2 separate regions of the Homo sapiens genome follow, and region 2 is linked to region 1. Evidence: fine-mapped expression QTL. Tissue or cell type: tibial nerve. Region 1 holds a variant in brackets; the other region holds the start of a gene. All regions are shown on one strand. Distances are between the middles of the regions.

Evidence for each region. PIP is the estimated chance that this variant, and not a neighbour inherited with it, causes the effect.
Region 2: it holds the start of HMGXB3, and the variant in region 1 is fine-mapped to the expression of HMGXB3 in tibial nerve (GTEx, PIP above 0.99).

Annotation. Positions count from the first base shown.
Region 1 is chr5:150,106,666-150,109,421 of GRCh38, reverse strand. It overlaps a transcript of CSF1R not described here. Among named protein-coding and RNA genes, the nearest start is that of CSF1R, 21 kb to the right of the region's middle. The variant A/G (reference allele first, on the strand shown) is at 1,075.
Region 2 is chr5:149,999,615-150,002,114 of GRCh38, reverse strand. HMGXB3 (HMG-box containing 3) reads right to left here and starts at 1,376. Exons shown (of 20, transcript NM_014983.3): 1 at 936-1,376. TIGD6 (tigger transposable element derived 6) reads left to right here and starts at 1,461. Exons shown (of 2, transcript NM_030953.4): 1 at 1,461-1,641. RefSeq lists enhancers at 482-561, 1,449-2,237 and a silencer at 1,642-1,721.

The sequences.
Region 1 (2,756 bases):
CATCCCACATCTAGACAGGGCATCCCACCCGTCGGGAAACCCAGCCTTCCCTCACCGCCCTGCTCTGCCCCAGTCCCTCATGGTGTAGGGTGTGCTCCTACCAGTGGTCCCATCGGATCCTCACGATTAGCCTGTGAGAGGAGCCTCCAGATGAGGAGGTTGAGGCTCAGAGCCATCAAGTGGCTTGGCTACAGTCACTGCAGGGAGGCTCTTGCCTTCCAGCCTCCCTGCTCCTACCTTCCCCGGGGGTGTCTAGGTCCAGTTCCAGATCTCAGAGTGGCCAGCAGGCTGAGCCCTGGGGTCAGGGGCCAGCTGCCTACACAGAATGTGGCTCCTGGAATTTCTTGGGTGGTGGGGGGGGGGCGGGCTTCTCCTTGGGATGGGGTTCTGGGGCCGCTCTGGGCCATGAAAGTTTCCCACAGCTTGGAAGAAAATCTGCCACCACTGTGTAGGGGTCTGGCGAGGGACCATTGGCCTGGGGCAGGGACCTGGGGACATCACAGAAGCCGAACTGTCTCCCTGTACCACCCCCTCCCAGCTGGCTCTTCCCTCACCCACATGTTCTTGGCATACAGGTCTGCCCTCTCCAGCAGCTCCCACCCCCCACCTGCTCAGGGCTCCTCGCCTTCTCCTGCAGGGCTTCACAGCAGGCTGCCCTTGCCCAGCTCCCCTTTGCAGATCCACAGTCTCTGGTTTTAGATTTTGTGGGTCTTCACTGCAGGAACTAGAAAAGTCACAAACATGGGGAAGTAACACAGTTTCTGGAAAATCACAGAATTCTAAGTCCCTTTTTTCCCCTCTGAAGAGACAAGAGGGAAGCTTCCACATCTGAAAATTTTTCTTTTTCATTCTTGATCTTCCTGAAGCATAGTGATGGTCTTGGTGTTCCCTTGCTCAAACATCTTCAGTGGCTCCCCGTGGCCCAGCAAAGTCGAGACTCCTTCATGGAATCTTTAAGGCCCTCCCTGATCTGATTCCAACCTCTCCTACTGCCTCTCCCACATCTGCCCTCCAAGGTCCATCCACCTTGTGTGGGCCACTAGCTTCCTGACCTCTGCCCCTTTTTTTGGTGCT[A/G]CCGTCACCACCTAGAATGCCCAGTCTTTTATAGCTGAAGGTCAAAGTCTTGCTCAAGCTTCCAGCCCAGCAAAAGCTACTTTCTCCAAGAAGCTTTCCTCATTCTTCAGCTGAAAATGATTTCTCTTCGCATTCCTTTGTCTGTGCCTCTTATGGGCCCTCACATCTGTTCAGCATTCTTAGCCTCCCATACCCTGTGCACTCTTACGCCTCCAGGCCTTTACTGTGCTGTTTCTCCTTCTTGGAACATTCCTTCCTCCTCCCTGTATCTCTCCCCCAACTCCTCACCCTTCTCACTTCCTCTCAACTCAGATAGGGCCTTCCTTGACTCTTCTCTCCGGTGATCCCAGGACATCTTGCAACTCCCCCAGTGGCCTGGTTCCTCTCCTGGCTCTGACAATAGGCTGTGAGTTGCAGAAGGGAGGGACCACAGCTGACCTGTTCACCACCATGTCCCCAGGGCCAGGGACAGTGATTGAGAAATATCTGTTGCATGCCCTTCACCTGCATTATTGTCTCACTGGATCTGAGTCAATAGCCCCTTCCCCATTTTACATAATGAAGAAACAAGGCCTTGAAAGGCCGGGGACCTGGCTGTGGTTAGGAGTGGGGAATGAATTCCTGGTCTATCTGGCTCCAAAGCCTAGGCTGTTCCCCTTTACCCTCGATCCTCCTGAGAGCCCCTGCCATTGATGAAAGACAGTGGTTGAACATGTGGGCTCTGGCTCTGGGTTCCAGGGTTTAAAACCCAGCTCTGCCACTTAGCTGTTTAACTCCAGGCAGGTTACTTACCATCTTTGAGCCTGTCTTTCTTCATCTGTAACATGGAGTAATTACAGCTTTCCCCTAAGGTGGCTGGGAGAATCAATGAGATGATCTGTGCAAATAGCTCAGTCCAGAGACTGGCATGAAGAGTGTGCCCAATGGATCAACCAGAACAGTCCTTCTTCATGCCCCTGTGTTAATGCAATTATTAATAGCACCCCTTCCAGTCTCAAAGGTTCCAAATTGGATGACAAATCATGTTAATGTCCATAGATGTCAGATATTATCAGCTGCACTGTATAACACCACTTAGCTACTTGCCTTACCTCCCACCAGGCGGTGAGGTCCCTGCATGCAGGAAAGTGCTCTGAGCCTTGGCCTTCCTGGGCCCAGAACAAGGCCTGACACATGAAGCATTTGCTGAATAAATTGCTTTTGGAGGGTGGAGAGCTTCTCCTTGCTCTTCATTTATTCATTCATTCATTGGATTGTTTATACATTTCTTCATGCATCTGGCATTGACTGAGCACTCATCTGCCAGGCAGGGCCAGGTGTAGAGGGTATAAAGAAGACCGGAAGGGAGACTGGCCCTACCAGGAAACTCCTGCTGCAGAACAAAGGGGTCAGAATGACATCACACCAATAACCACTCTCATAACTGTGCTTCTGTTGACAGCGAGAAGTGCCAGGAAACTCAGGGAGCCACGAGAGACTATAAGACAGGGACTCAGTCAGGCAAAGGGAGGCTTATGGGCCAGGTGGAAGCAGAAGTATGTGGAACAGGAAGAAGGAGTGTGGGGGTGTATGCAGGAGCTGCAAGTGTTCAGTACAGCAGGGAGGGTGGATGGAGAGAGAAGAGGCAGAGATCAGATTGCAAAGGCCCCTGTAAGCCCTGCTACAGGGTATGGCCTTGATCT
Region 2 (2,500 bases), 110 kb after region 1:
CTTCCTATTAAAAACAAAAACTAAACTAACAAAGAAAAACAAAACAAAAACCTACATTCTAACTGCCATAGTGCAACCCAGGAAGAGAACACAGTCTACAACTTGGCTGGGTAAGCAATAGGCCAGTAAAGGATAAGGGAAGCAGTAGTTCAAATCAAGGCTACGTGGGGACTGCGCTTTTTTGCCCTGAATTGACTTCTGGGCGGCTGAAAGCCTTGTGGAGAAGGGCAGTAACTGCAGGAGAGCATCTGTAATGAATGGCATATAGGGTACTAAGCACCCTGCGCAAAACGGGTTAGGAAACACTCATTACAGCCACCTTGGGCTGAGGGCAGGAAGACAACACCCTACGGTTTTGTTTGTTTTATTACCCTGTTCTAAGCCTGAGTACAAGTTTGTTATCAGACTCGAGGCAGCAGTATAGCAATGCAAAAAAAGGCAGGACAATTTAAGGTTAAAAACGAAGGGCTCTAGAGGACAGAAAATCCGGGTTCTAGTACAGACTACACCAGTCGCACCAGCACGGGGACCTCTGACCTTAAGCAATCTACTTACCCTAAGTCTCCGTTATTTCATCTGTAAAACAGAGTTAAGGTCAATACCTGAAATATGCGAGACACTTTCTCTGTCCCATCAGATCCTCCTTGGAATCTCACGAGATTGCCTTTGAGGGCTCAGCCATGGGCCACAGTTTGACTCTGGGCTAGCTCCTTTCCCTCATTCTGGGTCATGAATGAAGCAAGAGCCAAACCAGACAAAGTCTTGGTCAAGCTAAGACGTCTGGGACATCCGAATGTCCCATACGGATTGCGGAAGGAGGACACTAAGGCTCAGTGGCCCTACTTTGTGGAAGACTCAGTAGAGGCTCAGAGAGCCGCAGCATCCAACTCGAGGTCGCCCAGCGGCTCGGCGCGGCCCTCGAAGGCGGGACTTACCCGGAGGAGCGTGCAAGCTGCGCCGCTCACATTCCCGGAGGCGCTTGGCCCGGCGGCTGGACGAGGGGGATGGCTGGCGCACTCGCGCTCCCCGCTGTCGGCGAGAGGCGGCTCCAGTCGTGACAGCAGCAACAAGGAAGTGGAGGCGAGGGCTCGCGCGCGCATCCCGGGGGCTGAAGGAGCCCCGGCCCCGCGGCCCCGCCCGGCGACACACGGCGCGGAGTCGCGACAGCCCCTCTCGCTTCCCCTCCTCGGAGTCGCGATATGGGGTCCTGAAGGGCAAGAATAGGAGCACAGGTTCGCTCCGCAGGCTCCTCACCGATGCCTGCCGAGGGCCCCGGGGGTCAAGCCCCGGGGAGCTCGAGGAAGACGGCAGGGACACGGTCGTCACCGAGGCACCGGTTTGGCGGCTGCACCGGCAGTAGCGGCACACCACGGATCGCCAGGGAGACCCGTCCCGGCGGCCCTCGCGGCGCACCGGAAGCGGTCGGCAGCGCGTGACTGCATGCGACCCCTGGCGCAAGCGCAACAGCCCAGCCCTAGCTTGGGAGCGGACCCACACGAACTGCTCAAAGGCTTGGAGCGGGTCTAGTAAGGCGAACGGACTGCTTCCGGCCAGAGGTCCCGGGCGGAGGAGGAAGCTGTGGCTGCCGGCGGTGGGACGCCCCGGCCGCTCAGCCCCCGGGCACTGCTGTGGGGCGTTCAGGTAACAGGGGCGGGGCTGTGCTGAGCGTGAGGGATCTAGGCCCCGCCTCACCTTTCAGAGCCACGTCGGGCGCTGGGAAGCCTACAATACCACCCTCTCCTCAGCACGACGTTCAAGGCCTGACCTCAGCCTGTCTCAGTCTTTCCCTCTCATTCAGGATCGGGTTCATACGTAGTGCCGCATCAAGTAGCGCCTTCATCACTCCAGTGATCTGCCCTCAATCCGTCTCTCCCACTGGCCCACGAATAGTGATGGTAGTGAGTTCCTGGAGTGACTCAAGCTGAGCTGAATGACCGTATGGAGAGCTTCCGTAAATCAAATAGGGATTGGATTGGATTGTCCTTTCTCTCCAGTGTCACAAGTTGTCCACATTTGTACAAGTTCCCGCACAACCCTCACTGTATTCCAGTCTGCCTACTTCTCTGCATCTACCGCCATCACCAACCTTCTAGCCACCATCATCTCCTGCCTGGACTGATGTAGTTCTCCCCACATCCCCTCTACAATCCATTCTCCACGAAGCAGTCAGATTGATCATTTTGCACTGTAAGTCTGATCAAGTCACTCCCTGCTTAAAACCCTCCAGTGTCTCATTCACTTAAAATAAAATTCAGACGTCTTAGCTTGACCAAGACTTGTCTGATTTGGCTCTTGCTTCATTCTCTTTCTATGTCTCCTCTCAATATTAGTAGTTCCCAGAACCAGCTATATAGCACTCTGTAGTGTTTGGAGTGCTAGCTTTGTTGTGAGCCTCCTGGGTTTGAATCCCAGCCCTGCCACAAGTAAGCAATATTAAGCAAGTAAAGTGCTTAACAAATGAGGTTTACGCAGTAGATCCTCCCACCTCAGTAAATGGCAC